2 separate regions of the Homo sapiens genome follow, and region 2 is linked to region 1. Evidence: fine-mapped expression QTL. A gene starts in region 1. The other region holds a variant in brackets. All regions are shown on one strand. Distances are from middle to middle.

Evidence for each region. PIP is the estimated chance that this variant, and not a neighbour inherited with it, causes the effect.
Region 2: its variant is fine-mapped to the expression of RGS14 in minor salivary gland (GTEx, PIP above 0.99).

Annotation. Positions count from the first base shown.
Region 1 is chr5:177,354,611-177,362,706 of GRCh38, forward strand. RGS14 (regulator of G protein signaling 14) reads left to right here and starts at 3,314. Exons shown (of 15, transcript NM_006480.5): 1 at 3,314-3,459. The coding sequence starts at 3,415. RefSeq lists enhancers at 3,188-3,237, 3,366-3,866, 7,290-7,439 and a silencer at 3,338-3,567.
Region 2 is chr5:178,204,813-178,212,908 of GRCh38, forward strand. It overlaps HNRNPAB (heterogeneous nuclear ribonucleoprotein A/B), which reads left to right. Exons shown (of 8, transcript NM_031266.3): 2 at 3-234; 3 at 1,030-1,198; 4 at 1,920-2,078; 5 at 2,282-2,413; 6 at 4,518-4,635; 7 at 5,320-5,460; 8 at 5,741-6,351. The coding sequence starts at 26. The coding sequence ends at 5,811. It overlaps PHYKPL (5-phosphohydroxy-L-lysine phospho-lyase), which reads right to left. Exons shown (of 13, transcript NM_153373.4): 12 at 7,078-7,158; 13 at 3,659-4,103. The coding sequence ends at 7,109. Among named protein-coding and RNA genes, the nearest start is that of HNRNPAB, 4.3 kb to the left of the region's middle. RefSeq lists silencers at 1-124, 145-254, 285-694. The variant C/A (reference allele first, on the strand shown) is at 4,663.

The sequences.
Region 1 (8,096 bases):
GGGAGCTGAAGCCAAAACTCAAAGGGCCTTCAATTCCCAAGTAAGGAACATGGCCTTTTCCCAGAACTCAATGGGATATTTCTAAGCATGGGAGTGACCAATGTGGATTCCTCTAGCTATGGTGAGGAGAAGAGATTGGAGCGGGGATAATAGGGAGACTGGATTCATCATGATCGGGGGAGAGAGGGTGAGGCCTAAGCCAAGGAGGTCTTCACAGAGAAGAAGGATCTGAAGTCCCAGCCAGAGACTAAATCAGGAACTGATGCCCTGTGGGCAGCCAGGAAGGGAGAAGTCGAGGATGGTGCTTTGTGGGTGGAGGTACTCCACCACTCTCATGGCATGGAGAAGACTAGATAAGGGCTAAGAGATGGGAACAGCCAGGGCTAGCTGTGGTGAAGATGTGGTCAGAGCTAGAACTGGCATCCATGGTGGAGAGAAGGGAAGAGGTGTCTCTGCAGGAGAGTATGAACTTCAAAGGGAGTCCCAGGCAGAGACTGTGACTGTCCTTTGGCAGGAAGAAGATGAGCTGTGGGCATCTGTGGTGGCCAAAGCCCAGTTCCAGGCACCCCAAGCACACTCACAGCTTAGCAGATCTCTAAGAGGATGTATAGCCTTGGGCAACTCACTTCTCTCTGAGCCTCAGTTTCCTGATCTGTGAAATGGTAATAATAAGCACCATTCACAAAGTGGTTGTGAGGACTAGGACTGTAAAGCCACCTAGGAAATGGCCCAGATCCATGGCACAGCAGACAGGAAGTCTTCACCCATATCACACACCCTACAACCCCCACAGGCACATTGAAACAGTCACACACCTTATTAAGACCACCATTGGCAATGGTCCAGGCCCAAAAGCAACCTCCACCGTAACCCCTTTCACACATCAAGTCTGACTGAATCTCTCTGTCTGTGTGGCCTGAAGCAAGGTGTCTGGAGAGAGGTGAGGCAGTGCTGGGAGAAGAAGTGTGTTAACTAGGGCAGTGCTAGCTGCTATAACAAATAGGCCCTAATGTATATAATGACCTGAAAATTTTTTTGATGTTTCTTTTTTTTTTAACTATTTTTACAAGGTTTGTGCATCTGTCAGGAGGCTCAAAAAATTTTACTTCCCACTTACATAATGGTCTGAAGCTGGTTTCCAGGTTGATGGGTGGCTTGCCTTCAGGCACTGATACACAGACCCTGCTTTTTCCTTCTTGTGGTTCCACAATCCCCTGGGCCTCCTCATCTTCTCTATCCATCCAGCTGAAGGAGAAAGAGGGAGGGTGCAGGGCACACACTTACTTCTTCAAAGCCTTGGCTCAAAAATGACACATGTCATCCCACACATTTTCAATTGGCAAGAAGTGGTCACATGTCCACATCTGACTGCAAGGGAACCTGGGAAAGTAAAGTTAGCCACGTGCCCAGGAAAAAAGGACATGAATTTGTGGTGAAGAGCTATTCAGTTTCTGCCACTGAAGAGTTCAGGTCACAGCCCTAGAAGGGGCAGTGGGGCAGAGGGTAGAATATGGAGAAGTGGCTATCACCTTGTCCCTGCAGAAAGACTAGCTGAGGCTGGACACGATGGCTCACACTTGTAATCCCAGCACTTTGGGAGGCTAAGGTGGGTGGATTGCTTGAGCCCAGGAGTTTGAGACCAGTCTGGGCAACATAGGAGACATCTCTACAAAAAAAAAAATTACACAGTCACGTTGACATGCACCTGTGGTCCCAGCTACTTGGAAGGCTGAGGTGGGAGGATTGCTTGAGCCCAGGAGGTCAGGGCTGCAGTGAGCCTAGATCCTGCCACTACACTCCAGCCTGGGTGAGTAACAGAGCAGGACTCTGTCTCAAAAAAAAAAAAAAAAAAGTAAAGAAAAGAAAAGAAAGAAAAAGAGAGAAAGAGGAGCTCAAATCAGAATGGTGGGCAAGTTGAGGGGTCTTAGTGAGCCCACGCTTAGAAGAAAATATAAGTCCTTGCAGTGGGGACACGCATGTGTGAGAAAGAGGCAAACCAAGGACCCTAGCTAAAATTTTTAAAACTGGAGTTCATCTGGGGCCAGGTCAGGGCCGAGGGCAGGATGCCCACCCTTCAGCCAACACTACATGCTATCAAATTAAGTTTATATCCCCCAAAATTCATACGTTGAAACACTAACCTGCAAGGTGTTATTTGGAGACAGGGCCTTTGAGAGGTAATTGGGTCATGAAAGAGAACCCCTTAGGGTGGGATTAGGAATTAGTGCCCTTATAAAAAGAGACAGGAGGGAGCTGGCTTCCTTTATCTCCACTTGCTATCGTGAGGGCATGGCAAAAAGACAGCTGTCTGCAAACCAGGAAGAGGGCCCTCTCTAGATACCAGATGTGCCAGCGGCTTGCCCTTGGACATCTCAGCCTCCAGAAGTGTGAGAAATACTTATTTGTTGTTTAACCCACCTGGTCTATGGTATTTTTGCTATAGCAGCCTGAGTTGACTAAGGCAGGATTTCTGAGTGAGTATGAATGCGCTCAAGTCTTTGGCCACAGATATAGGTGATCCAGTCCCCTACCTAGGTAGGTGAGCGTGTGCATCATATCTGCTTACACATATGTCACTGGAGTGTCGGAATACATATGTCCTATGTTCAGGTGTGCCTGTCACATGCACCTCTTCAGGGGACTGTGCATGCACATGACTATACACCCAAGTCCCCCTTGTAAGGGAGAGCCCATGTGTTTATGACACGCATACCTGAATGTCTGTGTGTGCACAGCCATGCGGGCAAGTTATCCATCTGTCTGCACACCTGGCCACATGCATGGAAGGAGCCTGTAGGTGTCTGGGGCTAGAGGTACCCTGCATATGTGCAGCTGCCGGGGAGAGGGGTACTGAGCACATGTTTGTCTGGCACACAGTAGGTATGAGGTAAGTGTGTGCCGAGTAAAGTACACGTGTGGATACACAGGTCCCAGTGCACGTGTGTGCATGTCCACAGGAACGCCCCCAGGGTGGACAAAGGTGCCTAGGTATGTTTACTCGTGTGCTGTGAGCCCAGGCATGAACTTAGAGCTCCCTGGTCCTGGCCAGACCAGGCTGGGCTCCTTGCTGGGCACACGGAAGCCTCTGCCTTGTGTTGGTGCCCGTGCGGGATGCTGCCAGGAGTGTGTTGGTGGCGTGTGTGTGCGTGAACGTGTGTGTGTGTGCGCGTGTGTGTGTAGGAAGAGGCGTTCGCTCTCTTAGACCTTGCTTCTTTCTGTGGTTTGGTTTCTATAGAGACACTTCCTGTGGCAGAGAAAAGAGGTAGTGAGCGGTGTTTCAGGATGTGAGGGCCCGCAGGAGCCGAGTCAGGCTCTCTCCACTGCCTGCCCGCCACCGTGCAAGCTCTGGCCGGCGCTGCCCACAGTCCCCATGGTGGGCAGCCCCCGCGGCGGGGACCCCTGATCGGCAGCGGCATGCCAGGGAAGCCCAAGCACCTGGGCGTCCCCAACGGGCGCATGGTGAGTGTGGGCTCCGGGCCAGGGCCACGAGGAGGGGGTGGGCACACCCAGGGTGGAGCCCAGGAGGCACACCCGGCAGGGCCAGGCAAGAGCCCACGGGCTGCCAGCAGGCGAGAGAAGTTGGGTACAGACAGCAGCAGGTGGTAGGACCTGGTGCTCTCACCCCTAGACCCTTCCAGATGGCCCAGCCGGGAGCCTGGTACAACCCTGGCAGTGAGGCCAGAGCGGGCACAGGCTTCTGGTCCAGCCCCCACCACTCCCTCACCTGCTGCATCTGGGGCTGCATCCCAGGGTCTCAGGGACACTCGATGTGCTCCTTGCCCCCTGCCCATCCCCACAGTGGCTCAAGCCCCTACATCCCGCTCAGCCTGAGTCCTCCCCTCCTCACCCCCTGCTCCAGGTGCCCAAGGTCATGTTAGTGGCAGCTCTTGCTGGGTCGGTGTCCTCCAGCCGGAGCTACTCCAGAGGCTTCCTGCCAGAACTAGCATTGTTTGGGCAGCCCGGGATGGGGCAGCAGGGTCAGACTAGGTTGATGCAGCTTCTGCCTGTTCTATTCCTGAGCTTCCAGGAAGGGCTGAGCACTAAGATCCCCCTGGCTGCAGCTGCCCCACCCCTTAACCCTCTCCCTGGCTGCTTAGCCCCAGATCAGAGCTGCCCTCAGAGGATCTGGCTCTTCTCATTCATTCAGCAGATGGGGCAAGCTGTGCTGGGCCTCCCTTCTCTCCCTAGGGTTCCCCCCTCACTTGGAAGAGTCCCTCTTAACAACCTCAGGAAGGCCAGTGTCCTGGCCCACCACCAGGCCCCAGCCTAGTATCACGGGCCAAAGCCAGTGGCTCTATAGAGACCTGGGTTCCAGTCCTGGTTCTATTCTCTCTTACTGGAGGGAGGGTCCTCGCCAGCTCTCAGTTTCCTCATCCCTAAAATGAGGAGGTTGGAATGAATTTCAAGGCTTGTTGAGATGATAGAGTGAAATAATGCATATGAGGCCTTTGACCCATTGTGGGGGCTGCATAATTGTCAGCCCAGTGCCCCCTACATTTTCAGCCCCAATTCAAAGATCTCCTGCCTCACCAAGAAGCTGAGGCAGCCCCATCACCACTCCTGCCCCTTAGTTCCCAAAACCTGCCTCTACCTCTTCTTCTTCCAGCATCTCTTTCCTGCCCAGCCCCGGGCTGGCCGGCTGGGAGAGAGGCCACCCTTCAAAGCCAGCTCAGCCCCCCATCTCACTGTCTGCAGTACCGACCCCACAACGAAAGTGCAAAAAGAAAACCCACCTCCCTTGCATTCCCATGTCACAGGCATGACACTTCGCTCGTCCTTGCCTAGGCGACCGGGCCAGGAAGCCAAGGAGGCTAACCCCAGGCCCACCCTGGGAGGGCAACTGGATTGATGCTTCTGGGACAGTGCCTAGAACTACAGGGCAGCAGAGGGGGCCCAGAGACAGACCCAGCCCCTGCCCCTTCTGTGTCAGCCTGTGACTTCTCTACTCAAAAGTCACCTAGAGCAGGGAGGGTGCCCCAAGGTCTGCCCCCAGTTCCATCAAGCCCACAGACGCCCCGGCTCCTCTCAGAACTGTCACACACAGGTTTATCTTTGCCCTTCCTGGGCCTGTTCCAAACTCTCTGTGCCACCTCTTAGAATCCCGAGGGTCACAGATTGGCTGCCTGCTGGTCACTGAGTAGCTTCCCGTGGCCCTGCACAGCTAGGGCAGGGAGGGCCAGACAGGCACTGGGATCTGAGGTGCGGATGTGGATGGAGGGGCGCCTGGGGGACAGGTATGTCTGGTCCCTCCATGAGTTACCTCCCAAGGGAGGCTCAGAGAAGTAAATGCTGTGCCGAGGTCAGCCAGAGAGTAGAGCGTCAGCATCTGAACCCCCAGAACTGCCTGGCCCCAGTCCTCCCCTACCTCTCCTCTCACCACCATCATTCCCTGCTGTGGAAGCTTCAGTTGTCAGCCTTGCCTCTCTGCCATTCAGCTTGTCAGGCAGTTGCAAGGAAACCTGTCACTTGGAGACATCTCCCAGCCCCCTTCCTAGGGATGTCTTCACACAGCCTCTTTACCTTTTCATTTGTTCATGTACTTATTCACTCATTCATTCAACAACCCCTCCTTAGTGCCTGCTTGGTGCTGCCACTGCCCCTATCCTAGACACTCCCGACCCAGGCCCATCAGCCCTAGTCCCTGCCCCCTAGTCTGGCAAGGCACAAAAGACACAGGTGAAAATACCAGGCAGTGGCTCAAGCCTGGAATCCCAGCACTTTGGAAGGCCAATGCAGGAGGATCGCTTGAGCCCAGGAGTTTGAGACCAGCCTGGGCAACATAGTGAGGACCCATCTTCTTTTTAATTAGCTGGGCATGGTGGTATGCACCTGTAGTCCCAGCTACTGGGAAACTGAGGTGGGAGGATCGTTTGACCCCAGGAGGTAAAGGCTGCAGTGAGCTGTGATCACACTCAGACTGCACTGCAGTCTGGGTGAAAGAGCAAGATCCTATATTAAAAAAAAAAAAAAAAAAAAAAAAGATGGAAGGAAGGGAGGGAGGGAGGGAAGGAGGGAGAGAGGAGGCAGGCACAGTTGCTCACGCCTCTAATCCCAGCACTTTAGGAGGCCGAGGCGGGCAGATCATGAGGCCAAGAGATCGAGACCATCCTGGCCAATATGGTGAAACCCCTTCTCTACTAAAGATACAAAAAATTAGCTGGGCGTGGTGGTATGTGCCTGTAGTCCCAGCTACTTGGGAGGCTAAGGCAGGAGAATTGCTTGAACCTGGGAGGCAGAGGTTGCAGTGAGCCGAGTTCGTGCTACTGCACTCCAGCCTGGCGACAGAGCAAGACTCTCCACTAGCTCCATGCACCGTGTTGTAGGAGACGGTCCCTAAAGGGTCTGCAAGCTGGAGGAGGGAGGGCACGGCATAGGCCTGGCTGTGGGCAAACACAGGGACAGGGCCCTAGGGGAGGCTGAGAGTTAAGCCTGGAGGGGCAGTTAGCCTGTCCTGTCCTGTCAGAGGGCCTAGTTAGTCTTCCCCTCCTGGCAGGAAGACCTGCAAGGCAAAGCCCATGCAGCTCTCTCTTTGTCCCTCGCGTCCAGCTCAGGGCACTCGAGTTCAGGGTGGCCTTATACAGGGGCAAGGCCAGGGGTCATCTCCACAGGCTGGTTCAAGTTGAAGGGACCAGACACCCAGATTCTGTGTGGACATCTCCAGACAGGGTCTTGCAGCCCCTCAAGCTAGGATGAAATCCTCAAGAGGATGGTAGAGGGTGCCCAGCATAGAAGATGCTCAGAAAATTGGCCCTCCTTCAAGGTCTGATCCCTCTAGAGGGCACAGTTCAAGAGGAGCCCCTGAGCAGGTCATGCCAGATTAGACTTGCCCACCTGTGCCCCAAGGGCTGAGGCCCTGGGCCTCCAAGCTTCCTTGGTCCACAAAGGGAGTCAGCTTGGGTAGAGGGTGGGGAGGCCTCAGGCTCCAGAATCAGGCAAACTTGAGTTCTAATCTCAGTTCTGCCACATCTCAGCTGCATGGCTTCTTTGGGCCTCAGTTTCCTCATCTGTAAAATGGGGGTAATAATACCTGCCACACAAGATACCCGTAAAGATGGAGGGAGGACATGAATGTGTGCTGCCAGAGGGTGCCTGCCACACAGTCAAAGCTCAGGAAATTGGGGCCTTACTCTCACCTTAGCATTTTCAGGTGCCAGCAGCTCCCCCAGGACCAAATTCCTAAGAAAAAAATATGACCGGCCGAGGTCCAAGCCTGGGTCCGTGTGTCACTGGCCACCACACCCTTCCTTGCCCTTTCTTCCCCTTTTTCTCCATTCACTCACCACTTCTTCTCAAGCAGGCTGAAGCAGGGGAGGCCAGCCCTGCTCAACACAACTTCCCCAGGCCCTGCAGTGGCAGCCAGGGCAGGCCAGAGCCCCTGCAGGGCCCCTGCACACCTGCACCTCACTCCGCTGTGGGGTGCTGCTCTGATTGTGGCATGCCTGGTGCTTTCACTCATGGGGCCTCATTCAAGCTTCACAGCAGCCTCAGGAAATTGGGAGTGCTGAGCCCCATGCTACCCAGGGAAAACTGAAGCTCAGAGAAGTTACTTGTTCCCGAATAGCAGAGCTGGAATTGGATTCCACCCCCACTCCCACCCATCTCCAGATTTCTGTCCCTACTCAATTTCAGCTCCAGCTATGCTATCAACAACTGTCAGGGCAAGAGAGGCTCAGGATGGAGAGCTACAGGTGGCATTCAGGGGCTGAGAGTCCCTAGTGAAGGGGTGCCAAGGCCAGGGTCCTGATGGCTGCTTGGGAGCACGAGGCAAAGACGGTGCTTCTTGAGGAGGGAGTTCAGATCTGACCCCTCCCACCAACCAGGCCAGCACTCCAGGGGTGACCAGACTGGCAGGGAGAGAGGCCGGGACATGGGTGGATAAGCACGTGGTGGGAAGGGGCATTCAAGGGGCCTGGTGTTTGGGGACGACTAATGTCAACGGGCAGAGATCGGGGAGCAATTCCAAGCGAAGAGCAGGAGCAGATACCCAGGCACTGGCAATGGCAAAGCCGGAAGCAGGGGTGTGGGGAAAATAGAAAAGTTCGGTGAAGTGTAGGGTGGAGGTGAGGGGGAGGAAAATGGGTGAGGCTGAAGGGGGT
Region 2 (8,096 bases), 850 kb after region 1:
AGGAGCCGCCGCGCCTCGGCCTAGCATGTCGGAAGCGGGCGAGGAGCAGCCCATGGAGACGACGGGCGCCACCGAGAACGGACATGAGGCCGTCCCCGAAGGCGAGTCGCCGGCCGGGGCTGGCACGGGCGCCGCGGCGGGGGCTGGAGGCGCGACCGCGGCGCCCCCGAGCGGGAATCAGAACGGCGCCGAGGGCGACCAGATCAACGCCAGCAAGAACGAGGAGGACGCGGGGTAGGTGCGGCCGCGGGCGGACGGGGGCGCCGCCTTTGTTCCGGGGCCGCCTTTTGTTGGCGCCACGCGGCGGGGGGAGGGGCGGCGGCCTGGCCCGGGTCGGGGCTGGTGCGGCCCGCGGACTGTCGCCGCTGCGTTCGCGGGCCGGGCCTGGCGCTGCCACTCGCGCTGGAGTTTGCGGGAGTTTGTTGGGTCGACTTTGGCGCCGCCCCGGGGCCGCTCGCGCGCTGCCAGGGCCAGGGCCAGGGCCGGAGCCGGCGCAGGGGCGGGCGGATGGCCCGGAAGAGGGAAAGCGCTCGGACCCGGGGCCCGGCGGCGTCTTGGGCCGCGCCGGCGGCTGCGTGGGCGGAGTTGGCGCGAGCCGGGGCCCGGACCTCCCTCCTCCGCCTCTCCCGGGGGCGGAGTCACGGTCTGAACCCTGGGCGGGCTTGGTCCCCGGAAACATCGAGTTCCTTGAAACGAGTTCTCAGGAGTTGGTGGAGACGCTGGCCCTTTGCTACATGGTTGTAGAACACATGAATTTCCAGTTATGAGTGGTTAGGTCCCATACCCCTGGTGAGGTGGTCCCTTCTTTGCTTCTCACAGGCTGGGGCTGCAGAGCCTTGTTAAGCCTCGTTAGGGTCCTGGTTGAGTTCAATTTGGAGGGTAGTGGAGATTTAACATCTTTCTAAGGTGCTCCTTGCAGACTCTAAGGGTAGCTGTAGACTTCGTGAGAACTTTGCCAGGGCCAGTCCTTTCCAAAATCACAGCTTGCTTACAAGACTTGTTGCCGTGTGTCTCACCCTACCATTTCAGAAAAATGTTCGTTGGTGGCCTGAGCTGGGATACTAGCAAAAAAGATTTAAAAGACTATTTTACTAAATTTGGAGAGGTCGTTGACTGTACAATAAAAATGGATCCCAACACTGGACGGTCAAGAGGGTTTGGGTTTATCCTGTTCAAAGATGCAGCCAGTGTGGAGAAGGTAAGCTGGGTACTGGATTTCAGCAGTCTCAGTGGAAACGATTTGAATTCTAAGAGGACACCTTTCTTAAAGCATGACTAGTTTGTGTGGTCTGCATGTGATTTAAGTGCTTTGGGCAAAACCCAAAGCCGGAGGTTATGTTCCGGTTTTTGAGGGGATGAAAATACAGATTAAGCTGGGAGTGAGAGAATGTGCTGGAGTGGTTCGGGAAGATGACAGTTGACATTCATTACCTTTTATGTGCCTATTCTGGGTACGGCGCTAAACATCTGGGAGGATTACAAGAGAGTCCATGATTGGTATGATAGGCTTTTAGCCCCATTTTACAGGACAAAAACCAAAACCCTAAGGCTCAGAAATGTAAGTAGAAGAGGTCACAGCTAGTAGGGAGTGGAGGGAGGATTCCTTCCCCTGTGGCCCATCTTCAGCCTATGCTCCGAGTCCCTGCTGCTTCGCTTCTGGAGATGGGCCTCACGCTGGGACTGCTTGGGCAGGAAGAGCATGATCAAAGGCTTAAGTGTGAGGACTGTTTTCTAGGTGTCGAGGTAAACCAGCTGTACTTGAGGTTTGATGAAAATTGGGTTGGGAGGTTAAGCTGGGGTAGAATTTGGAGGGGGTGAAACACATGTTTGTATCTGTACTGGTGTCTTTATGGCTTAGAGAGAAGGGCCTTGTCTGGCTCGTGCTGCTGAGTCAGCCTGACCCCTTTCTGTTGGAACAGGTCCTAGACCAGAAGGAGCACAGGCTGGATGGCCGTGTCATTGACCCTAAAAAGGCCATGGCTATGAAGAAGGACCCGGTGAAGAAAATCTTCGTTGGGGGTCTGAATCCTGAAGCCACTGAGGAAAAGATCAGGGAGTACTTTGGCGAGTTTGGGGAGGTGAGTGTGGCTCTGGGAATAGCCCATCAGCTGCCCCTAAGGCTGCCTTCTTTCTGGTCCTTGGTATCCTTGGCTGGCTAGACCCTCCCAGGCAGGGCTTATTTTTCACCCTCTGTCTTCAATGGGGTCTTTTCTCCTGTGAGTCCCCTATATGCTCTGGGGTAGGGAGGTATTGGGCCTGAGTTTGCCTATGCTTTTTGCAGATTGAGGCCATTGAATTGCCAATGGATCCAAAGTTGAACAAAAGACGAGGTTTTGTGTTTATCACCTTTAAAGAAGAAGAACCCGTGAAGAAGGTTCTGGAGAAAAAGTTCCATACTGTCAGTGGAAGCAAGGTAAGGTGTTCCCAGCTCTGCTTGGCCTCCTGTGCTGCTGGAGAGCTGGCCCTTAGAGGGATGGGTTAGGGGTTGGGCCTCATGCAGGAGCTCTCCAGGTTGGTCAGACTTTACTATTTCTCTGAAGCGTATGCTGCCCTGATTGGGGCAGTGTTCCAATCCTTGAAAGACTTCTCAGGCTGGGAGGACTGCCAATAAACAACACAGGATGTGAGGGAGGTAGGAGAAGGTGGCCTCTGTGAATAGAGCAGGTTGAGTAGCCTCTTTAGCTCCTCACTTAAAGCTAGAGGTGACAGTTCTAGATTCTTGAGTCCAGGGGTATGAAGCCTGCAGTTTAAGGTCTCAGAAGATCCTAGAACTTCTGCAACTCACTGATTCTCCTCTGTGGTGAAGTTTTTCTTATTCCAGAGCCTTTCTACCTCCTTCTACAACCAAGTCTTTGTCCACTTCCATCCACTTTGAGCACTTTTTTTTTTTTTTTTTTTTTTTTGCTTTGAGACAGAGTCTTGCTTTGTTGTCCAGGCTGGGGTGCGGTAACACAATCATGGCTCACTGCAACCTTGACCTCATGGGCGGACCGGATCCTCCCATCTCAGCCTCTCGAGTAGCTGGGACCACAGGCATGTACCACCATGCCTGGCTCATATGTTTTTTTAAAGCCTGGTCTCACCATGTTGCCTGGGCTCAAGCCATCCTCTGCCTTGGCCTTGTAAAGTGTTGGGATTACAGGCATGAACTGCCTCACTTGGTCTTCTGGGCACCTCTTTAAGTTAACCCTAAACCCAGGCAAAAATCCTTCCAAAGATCTCCCAGGGTCCTGGCCAGCTTAAATCCAGGGTCAGTTGTGCTTTCAAATGAGTGGATTCATGTGCAGGGAGGTGTAGCTCTTCCCCTCCTGAACTCTGGTCAGGGAAAGGGTAGTTCAGGCTTCAAGTTGGCAGTTGGGAGTTGAGGGTGCGGCCTGCAGTGGCAGGGTGTGGCAGGTTCTGTTTCTGAGCAGGAGTTGGCAGCCAGATAAGGTGGGACAGGTGGAACTCCTGGAAGTCTCTATCCTGGCTGGGAGTTTGGAAAGAGTGGATTAGGATAGTCTTAAATTTTCTATAAAATGACAGTCTTTGAGGCAGTTAGGGGAAGCAGTGGTTATTACTCCAGTGGACAGTGATAGAGGCCTTTTTCTCTATGTGCCATAATGGGAAATGGGTGGGAAGAGCCTCTAAGGCAGAGTTTAAGTGAAACTACTGGTAGTGAGTCTTAGGAGTAAGTATATTTAGTTGGTTATATTCAGTATTTTTAATTTAGTAGGATAGAATATATCAGATTGCATTATTTTAATTTGCCAATTAAAAGTATGACTGGGACACTGTAAAATGTACTATTTTTAATGGGTGTGCATGTCAGGATTTTCTTTAGAAATACACTGGTCTGGTCTAATTTATTTAAGCAGGAGCACTTTAAAGTATCCCACCCTACCCCATTCCACCCCCAGTGGACAGAAAGGAAATTGACTGACTTGAGGGGATGCAGACATCTGGGTTATTCCAACAGACCAGTGGTTAGGAGGAGGGGGTGGGTAGCATTATGGCCTCGGGCAGGCCCCCCCACCCTGAGCCTCTGAAAGCTGACTTTATCTGTAAGAGGGAGGTCAGGCTCGCCTTCTCAATAGCGTGTATTTGGATGAGATGAGTTTCTTCTGTAAAGAGAAAAAGATGTTAAAACCTCATTGTCTAAGGCCCCTCATCTGAGAAGTCTTGTCTGACCCTCTAGCCCAGCAGGACCAAGGTGTGGTGCCTGGTCCCAGCCTGTCCTCTGCTCCCCTGGGCTGCAGTTGGCCCAGTTGCCTGCCTCCATTAGATACGGAGTTGCTCTGGGGCTGAGATGCCCATCTCAAGTGCATTCTGTCGGAAGGGTTCTCTGCTGGAAGGCCTTTGGTTTTAGTTGGGATTCCATGAGCTTTAGCCCAAAGGTGGCCTCCCATACTAGCATATTTTGTTTCTCAGCAAATGGACCTGATCCACCATTTGATGTTTGTCGCAGTGAAGGTGTTTGGGCAGTCACTGCCCTGAGTTTGTCCTACTGGCCTGACCACTGTCCTCTTGACTTTTAGTGTGAGATCAAGGTGGCCCAGCCCAAAGAAGTCTATCAGCAGCAGCAGTATGGCTCTGGGGGCCGTGGAAACCGCAACCGAGGGAACCGAGGCAGCGGAGGTGGTGGTGGAGGTGGAGGTGAGTGGAACGTGGATGAAGATAGGT[C/A]CTGTTTCCCTGCCTACATGGAGCCTTCCAAGCCTGTCTTGGGGCTCCCTCTGGTGCTGTGCAGCAGGGGTGGGCAGATTGTGTGAGGTTGGGGACGAACAGGAATAGGAACGGCTCTGGGTCAGGGCTGTATGCTTGAGGCTGTTGCCTGCTGCTGCCCCTTGGAATGGCTTGGGTGCCCAGGGCAGAGAGAGCATTTGTGTTACACTCTGGGGGAGGGGATGTGATGGGTGTCTTGGCTTTGTGGATGTCCTGAGTCTGGTACACCTGTGAGCAGGTAGGCAGAAGGGTGGGTAGGGCAGAGCTGTGCCAGGCATTTATCCCCTTCCATCCCAGGCCCCTCTGACTCCAAAGCCTGAACTGCATCTTTTTAAAGGCTAAGCTGCCAAGGAGAGTGGGAGTGATCAGAGAGTGACTGAGTGAGTGAGCTGCCTTGTTTGCCCCAAGTAAAGTTAGCATCCTGGTCTCTGATCCTCTGCTTGGGTCTCTCAGATGCAGGGTTGGGCCCAGGGCCCTTATACACCAGAACAGCAGCCCCTTGGCTTCTGCCTGAGTTGCCACAGTAACCCTGCCACCCCAAAGGGCAGGATTTCCTCCATCCTAGCTCCTGCGTATGCTAAATGGTCCACGGGCCCCTGTGCCCTGCTCCCCCCACAGGTCAGAGTCAGAGTTGGAATCAGGGCTACGGCAACTACTGGAACCAGGGCTACGGCTACCAGCAGGGCTACGGGCCTGGCTATGGCGGCTACGACTACTCGCCCTATGGCTATTACGGCTACGGCCCCGGCTACGACTACAGTAAGTAGGAGAGAGGGAGGCCCCATCCGCTCACCCCTCGTCCCCAGGGGAGGCAGGACAGTGTAGGAGCCACTGGCAGCAGGGGCTTTGGAGTCAGACAGGCCTGGCTCAGCCATGGGAGCTACTTGATTTTGAGCCTTAGACTTCGGGGTCTTAATAACATGAGGAAGGCAGTCTCTGCTGTCACGGCTGGTGAGGGTCCTGGGAAGATGCATATCAAGCGCGTGGCACAGGGCAAATGCTTGTAAATAGTAGCTGCTATGGTTGTTCTCGTCCCTAGGTCAGGGTAGTACAAACTACGGCAAGAGCCAGCGACGTGGTGGCCATCAGAATAACTACAAGCCATACTGAGGCGGCAGCAGGAGCGACCAACTGATCGCACACATGCTTTGTTTGGATATGGAGTGAACACAATTATGTACCAAATTTAACTTGGCAAACTTTCTATTGCCTGTCCCATGTGCATCTTATTTAAAATTTCCCCCATGGAAATCACTCTCCTGTTGACTATTTCCAGAGCTCTAGGTGTTTAGGCAGCGTGTGGTGTCTGAGAGGCCATAGCGCCATCATGGGCTGATTTTTATTACCAGGTCCCCCAGAAGCAGGTGGGAGGCTCTGCTTCCTGCTGCCGCTCTGCAGCCTGGACCTGTGGACCCTGGTTGTAAAGAGTAAATTGTATCTTAGGAAACCAGTGTCACCTTTTTTTCACCTTTTAATTTTATATTATTTGCGTCATACATTTCCTGTAACGGAAGTGTTAATTTTACTGTACTTTTTGGTACCTTTTGGGAATCTAATGTATTGTAAGGTATTTTACACGTGTCCTGATTTTGCCACAACCTGGATATTGAAGCTATCCAAGCTTTTGAAATAAAATTTAAAAACCCCCAAGCCTGGGTGAGTGTGGGATATGCTGTGTGAGACCTCTTGCTCAGGGTCGAGGGAGGCGGGGGGGGGGTGCCAGGTGCCCTGGACTTGGGGCTTTCTCCTGCAGCAGGCTCTTCCAGCTGCAGGCCCAGTTGTGGGGGTATCCTTTAAGGACTGCCCTGCCTAGGGCTGAGCCCCCCTTCAAAGAAAGGAATGAGAGGCCTATGGGGAGTGAGGATGGGGCAGTGATGAGGGCTTACATCCCCAGCAGGCATGTCCCCTCCTGGGACACCTTGGAACACCAACCTTCTTGGCTGATGAATGAAAAAATGGGATTCTTTACACACTAGGGCAGTGCCAGGGCCGTCTGAATTGGGGCACAATAGTGCTCCTCCTGGCTGGTGAAGAAAAGCCTGCTCTGGCAGGGGATGTTTATTGGCTGGATTGGAGCCCAACTCCAGGTCTGGTATTTAGGGCATAAGACTAGGTGGTTACAAGAGGCAAGGGTGGGTTGGGGTTCCACGTGGATACAGCCCCATAGGTTTCAAGGGAGGATATAGCTGTTCCTGCCATCAAGTGCAAGCTAAGCATTGGAGAATTTCCAGTGTTGAAGAAACTAACCTTTGGGAAGGAGCATCAGTCAGAACAAAAAAAAGTCTTAAAAAAAGGCTCAGCTTGCCGAGGCTGCTTGCTGCTGATGGTAAGGAACCCGCTGTGCATCTTCAAGAGTAAGAAGCAAGGCCCACTCACCTGGAGTACACTTAGGCAGAGCAGGGCTGGCTTAGGGCTGGAGCCTCAGCGTTTCACAACTTCTCACCTTCTCTTCCATGTCTGAAAAAGACCACAAAGCAATGCCGACTCAGTCACCTTTCTCTGCTGAAGATGCCCTGTTGACTTCAGTGTCCAAACTGGAGGACAGTTTAGAGATTGGGCCCTCTGGCTATCCACACCCATGTCCCATTCCCCAAAGGGGTGGCAGCAGTTTCCTGAAAAACAAAGCCAGCCCTCAGTTCTCCTGAGATTTGTAGGCTCTGTCCAGGATCCCTAAGCCTGTTCTGTGGCCAGCCTTTGCTCTCCACAAACACACTCCTATTCATCATATCCCTACCACTTCCAATTTGTGTCTAGCAGGGATGGGCCTCCCCCAGCTCCAGAGCCCTGGGATTAAGCATACCTGTGGGTAGCAGTGATCACCCAGAGGTAGGAGGGCACAGGTTGCTTGGCTGGCAGTTGTGATCTCTACTGTGAGATGCAACTGTGCCTATTTAGGGTCTCACTGAGCTGTAAATGGCAACACAGCCATGAGATTTCCTTGTAAGTGGATTTAGGGGGAACCCTGGGTTGACCACGACCATCCTAGGTGATGGGGAATGTGGGGTAGAGTTTTCATTTTGAGTTCCGTCAGTCCTCAGTGGTACCAATCTTTCAGCCACCCAGCAGCCTTGTGTGACCTGTCTCATGTACAGAATGAAACTCCTGCCATCTCTACATCCTAGGCTGGCGGTAATGGGGTCTCAACTCCCACTGTAGTTCTTATGGCCTGTTTCTCAGGCCCAGTACTGCTTTGTCCTGCATACATCTGATGCCTGCTCAGGCAGGCTGGGTGGTGGCTCACCTTCCACCTCCTGACAGCCCAGGAAGCTCTCTTAGGTACAGGCAGGAATAGGAGCAGATTGGGCCATGAAAGACCCTCTCTTGCTCCCTGCCCTGTCCAGAGGACATGTGCCTCTGCTCTTGGACTCTTGTCCCCTCCCTGTTCCATGCTAGGA